2 separate regions of the Homo sapiens genome follow, and region 2 is linked to region 1. Evidence: fine-mapped expression QTL. A gene starts in region 1. The other region holds a variant in brackets. All regions are shown on one strand. Distances are between the middles of the regions.

Region 1 (2,798 bases):
CAGCAGGAGATCCAATTACCTATCGGTGGTCACCTCTCTGCCCTCGGACCGTTTAAGAGGGGGATTTTAACCCCTAACGCTGAGGCTGTATTTCTGTCTATAAGAGCCGAGATTCGGAGTCGGTCGAGGAGGGGAAGGCAGTAGACGGATTCGACCCGGGAATGCATTAGGGACAGCTCCGGGCGCGCAGGAATTTCTTCACAGCAGAGGCTGGTCACCTGCCGTCCGTCCCTCCCCGCCTGGCCCGGTGACCGTCGCCAGAGCCTGGCGCAGGCAAATAAACGCCAAGCTGGGGCACCCCCAAGGAGGAGCTGCGATCCGAAGGCAATGCCAAGCGAGAGCGGTGGCGCGTCTGTTCTTCCGGAGTCTGTAGTCTACAAATAACTCCGGCCAGCAAGGAGGTGACAGCCCCAATATACCTCCCACTCCCCTGCTATGGCCTTGCTCCGCAAGCTGTGGAGGGGCCAGCGGAGCCAGCCAGGCAGCGAGAGAGAACGAAAGACGCCCAGCTCGTTGCAGCCGCCAACCCGCCTCAGCCGCCAGTCCCTAGTCCTCAGGAGCTAGTGAGGCGCTGCAAGGCGAGGCTGGGGCCTCTAGAACACAGTTTAAGGGGTGCGCGCGGAAGTGGGAACCAGCCGGTGGCCGCTGCCCGGCGCCAGAACGTCTACCATTCAGCCCGGGCGTGCGCGGGGCGGGGAAGAGGCTGGAGTAGAGAAGCGAGCGCCCGCGAGTGCGTGGCCGGTCCGCGAGCGCGTGTGGTGTCTGCCTTGTGAGCACTGCGGGTTCGCTGGACCCCGCGGCCAGGGCCGCGCCCCGCACCGCAGCTGTCGGATTACCCACCGTTCGGTTTTCCGCTGTGGCTGAACACAGCGGCTCTGCCCTTGCCAGTCTCCATCTCACCTCGGGGATCGGCAAATGCACACATCATGGATTCTCCGGATGCTCCAACCCGCGGACTCCAATGGGCGCCCCAAGACGCCCCCAGACCCAGCGCGGCGCCCCAAGCACATGGGACCCTCTCAAGGCAACTCGCCGCGCAGTCAGCGGCCGACTAGCAGGTCCGGATGCTCCTGCGCTCTGGCGGCCTGGACTTCGCGCCCTCGCTAAGCGGGCGCGTCTGCCAGGCGCTGCTGCCACCAGCACCAGGAGCGTGTTCGGGGGCCTCCGGGAGGTGGAAACGGGATGTGGGGGTCATCCTGCCCGCTCCTGACAACTTTTTTTCCTACGTTTCCCTGCAGACCCAGAGCAGCGAGGTCACGGTGTCCGCGGCCTCAGCAGGAAGGACCCCGCGATGGTTCTTCACAATTCACCCCCGCGAACAACGCACCCGAGCCTGCGCGCACGGAGGGCTGCCGCGCGTGGAACTGAGCGGGTCCTGGGTTGGTTTGCGGCCCTCTTCCCTCCGCCCACTCACATCCCTGCCGGGTGCGTCCGCGCTCACCTGTCAGTGCGGCGGGTCCTCGGGGCCTGCGCTTTCGACGCGTGGCGCTGAGTGCGGCCGCGGCCAGAGCCGCCGGGGCTCGGCGCGGGGTCAGCGGGACCGAGAGTGACGCGGCGGCCGTGCACTGGGTCGCCCGGTCCGCGGAAGGCGCACCGAGTGCCAGGCATCGCGCCGTCTCCCGTTTAAATGCCGGCGGCAGAGCGCGGCGCCCGGGGCCGCGCCTCTCCATTGGCCAGGCGCCGCCGCCGCCGCCAGACCCGCTATCCGCCCCCTTTCCCGGTACTGCCCCCGCCCCCCGCACCCCTCCTGCTTCCCCGCGGGGTCCCCTCTCCGCCCGCCTCGCCTCTTTGTCTGCTCCCCCCGCCCGGGCCGGCTGGGAGAGGTCACCCCAGGGAACCGCGCCTGGAATGCACAGCAAATCACATTTTCCGCTCCCGTTGGAGAGGGAAGAGCGGGAGGAAATCCCCCCGGCTGGCGGCCCCTCATTCCTTCTCTGCCCCAGGTCTGGGCTTTCCCTGTCGGCCGCCCGGCATCGCCTGCGTTGGTCCCGCGCTCAGTAGCGGAGACTGCGCTGGGAAGAGCGAGATCTCCGTGGGATCGTGCCAGATTCGGCCATTCTTCCCCTCTGGAGGGAACGGGACTGCGGGATGCTCTGGTCGAGCGGCCGTCGTGGCTCCCCGGCGGCCCCGCCCGAGGCCCCCAACTTCGAGGGCGCTGACCCCGGCGCCCCCGTTAACCTGGCGGGCTCGCTGGCCGCCAGCAGGAGCCTGTCGCCAACATGACACCCTGCTCTCCTCGCCCGCCAAGGGTTCTTTCAGCCCAGATGCCGGCGGCCTCCCCTGTGAGTGTACAGAGGGGAGTCACGGGAGGAGAATAAAACTAAATGACCGTCAAAAGTCAAGGCTTCTGTTCCTAAATTATCTTAAGAGACAGAGAGAAAACAGCCACTGGGCGAGAGGGGTTTTCTGTAGCATATCAAAGACGAATAAGTCAGGAAAATAAAACGTTAGATGAGGAAGTAACTTCCCAGAAATTTAGGACAAAAACCTACCGACGTGTAAAACCAATGTCACATTCCGGATACCAAGTACATAAATAGTTTTCGAAAGATGAGCGAACACTTTCATTTGTTCTCTTAGCCTGAAAAATTGGTTCCTCAAAGAGGCCGTAAGTTTTGTGTGTTGAAGCTAAAGTCCGTGCAAAAATTAACACGTCTGCAAGATCTGCAGACCAGCTCCATCAGCCACGTCAAATGAAGACTTTGAAAAAGATTTGCTACAGAAGGAAATATGAAGGTGTCTGTATTGTCTAACGCGAAATAAACAAAACAATGAAATCCATCAAAAGATACTTACGA
Region 2 (2,798 bases), 48 kb after region 1:
GGCCGCAGGCACCAGGCACTGGGGGCTAAGAGAAACCCCGAGACCCAGAAATCTCCTTCCTAAGGTCCAACTTGCCCCAAAAGTTGTTTTTTCTTTTTTTTTTTTCACTACTTGAGGTAAACACATACACAATTTTACAAAAAGCGCCATCACTTGTCCACAATCAGAGGACTCATTCGTCAGCTTCTATACAATCTGCGCTTGGTTTCTCCTTCTCAGTAAGCACTCAGGCAGTTCCACCACACGCTATTGTCTCCACAGGAAAGAAGAAGACAGAGGCAAAGAGAAAGAGCAGGAGAGGGAGAAACAGATTGGCCCCTAGGAATGGGGAAAGGAGGCTGAAAGAAATGGCCAACATGAGGGTGGAACTTCATATTTTAGATGTCTGACTCCCAGTTTCTGCTTCCTCCATCCCAAGTAACTGAAGTGAGATAAAAGAAAAGAACAGAGTCATTTTCACACATCCTTTCTCAAAATTCACTCTTATTTATAAGACCTTTTGGCCTTGACTCCTGGTGAGAAATGAGGGTCCCAACATTCAAACCTATTTATGAAAAGCAAATATTTTCATTTACTGAGGACCCACAGAAAGAGAGCACTTTTTATACAAAGAGGCTTTTATAGCTTCCTGTTGTTAGGGCCCTGAGTTCAAGTCCACATTCTGCCACACACTGTGGGATTCTCATAACCTCCCAATCTCACTGGACCCCAATTCCTCCCCTTTTAACCCGGGGATAACATGCTTGTGGGAGGATACAAATCGGATACTGTATGTAAAATGCTTACCTCAGTACCTGGTATGTAATAAGCACTCCATGAACGTTAGCTGCTTTTCCTATCTAGTCAACATTTCCTAACAGCACAATTAACAGAGCCGAAATTAATGATCCTGCATATTTTTCATTGTGGTGATCATGGTCCTGTGTTTGAGGTATTGAGCAACAGGGCTCAGGACATTTGAGCTTTTTACTAACATCAGTGCCTCCTCATCAATTCAAAACTAAATAAAGTCATGCTTTGCCTAACAAAGTTACAAATCCAGGCAGCATAATCCCTTCTCTCAAGGAGCTTGCTCTCCAATAATAGGGGACAAAATATGTCCACATAAACACACATCTGATGTTTGTGCCTGGTGGAAGAGATCATGAGCACTAGCGGAGAAGAGAAATTTGTCTCCCATAATGGGAAAATGAACACACAATAGTTTATACTTAGAGATGGATATTATCACCTCAGCTCTCCTCCCTAGTAACAGAATTTAGTTTAAGCTGTTTAGAATGGTGAGGGTTTATGTTGCAATATCCACATTCTCTAAACTCACATGACAAGTGACCCCCAAAGCACACAGCATTTGGTAATTGAG[A/G]AAAACAAAGGAATGATTCTATCTGTGCTGAATTGGCTAATTCATTGACTTGCCTCAGGGCAGAGGGCTGGCCCTGGCAGTTTGCTAGAGTGATCCTTCTGCTCTGAATTCGAGCCTGGTCCCTCACAGGGACTGCCCCACATAGCCGGCAAGGGCAGACACCCTGGCTGGCACTATCCTGTCCTTGTAGGAGAGATCTAAATTGGGTTGAGCCTGTTGGCAGATAAGCAAAATGAAACCCATTCGGATATTTTGTCTTGAAAGGCATTTGTTTTCATTCCTTCTCTTTCTTCTTCTGCTTTTCCCCCTCATACTAGGATCTAAAAAACTCAGGCTCCTTGGGGACCAAAGCCAACATTATCATCATCTACTCAGAGGCACGCAAACAGTGAAGGCAGAGACGCAAATTCTGAGTGCACTGCATTTGTAGCTTTCACATCTACATGTGGTCCCAATTTAGGATCACAAGCAGAGTTGTTTATTTTAGAAAAGCTTTTTAGTTAACTTTTAAGGTATTTTGCTTAAGCATTGCTTGCTTTCCAAAAGGAGAAAACGTGTATTTTTTTTTTTTTCTGAAGCGGTGTTTGTTTTGGCTGTTTACTCATTTGCAAAAGTTCAAATTTTATCCTATGAATTTAACTAATTTTTCTGTAGTCACCACAAACCCCACCCCCTCTAACACATACACACAAAACCCCAAAATAAAATAATCTGGAAGTGAAGCATTTTTAGGAGAGGTGTGAATTTAGCAGGTTTTGAAAAAGCCGTTTCAAATAGGTAATTTGCAATAGCACTTTTAGCTCCTTCATGTAACTTTTATTTGCCGTCTGAAATGAAGTCTCAACTTGGCAATTTGTATGAAGGCTAAGCATGTCTTTATACTAAGGTTAAGGCTCATGTTTGTCCTTTAAAAACTTTATTTTATAATTCTTGCTGAAATTATATGGCTTAGCTGAGGGTCAGAGTGGAGCTTAAGTTGAGGTATCAGTTATTATTGAAAAAATAACGGGATATAGAACTGTGGTGGTGGTGGTTGGGATTCGGTGAGGATATGGACACAAAACTGTGAAAAAGTAAAAATATGGACTTGGGCTCTCTAGCATCTGGTTCCATATACAGGCCTACCGCCTCCAATTATCTAAAGCTCCCACTTCATCTTCCTTTCTGAAACTACACTTACTTATGACATCATTTGTCCAGAACCTGAGCCCCACCTCTCTGTTCTCAATGACATAGCAGGTCCTATGTATCATTCCTTTGGGTAAGCTTCTCTACTAACATGATAATGAGTGCTAATTAACATGTAGTACTCTGCTCCTGTAGGATTTGCAACTTAGAGGATTTCTGGGATAATTCTCTTAAAGTAGTGACTTCACCAACAGGAATTCCAGGCCCCCTGGTGTGCCAGCTCAAGGGATAAGCAGAGTATGTCGGG

Alleles and levels. Positions count from the first base shown, and alleles are read on the strand shown. Sizes are in standard deviations (SD) of each study's normalised expression.
For the expression in prefrontal cortex of the gene that starts at base 1,599 in region 1, allele G in region 2 goes with a higher level than allele A (moderate effect, 0.41 SD a copy in ROSMAP).

What was found. PIP is the estimated chance that this variant, and not a neighbour inherited with it, causes the effect.
Region 2: its variant is the best candidate, but not a certain one, in a credible set for the expression of GREM1 in prefrontal cortex (BrainSeq, PIP 0.63).

Annotation. Positions count from the first base shown.
Region 1 is chr15:32,716,805-32,719,602 of GRCh38, reverse strand. GREM1 (gremlin 1, DAN family BMP antagonist) reads right to left here and starts at 1,599. Exons shown (of 2, transcript NM_013372.7): 1 at 1,442-1,599. It overlaps GREM1-AS1 (GREM1 antisense RNA 1), which reads left to right and starts at 738. Exons shown (of 2, transcript NR_109767.1): 1 at 738-1,058; 2 at 1,239-1,502. RefSeq lists enhancers at 299-876, 877-1,455, 1,593-2,093.
Region 2 is chr15:32,669,007-32,671,804 of GRCh38, reverse strand. The region is part of intron 10 of ARHGAP11A-SCG5 (ARHGAP11A-SCG5 readthrough); the gene reads right to left. The region is part of intron 2 of SCG5 (secretogranin V); the gene reads right to left. It overlaps SCG5-AS1 (SCG5 antisense RNA 1), which reads left to right. Exons shown (of 4, transcript NR_135505.1): 2 at 2,687-2,798. Among named protein-coding and RNA genes, the nearest start is that of SCG5-AS1, 2.7 kb to the left of the region's middle. RefSeq lists an enhancer at 1,091-1,623. The variant A/G (reference allele first, on the strand shown) is at 1,364.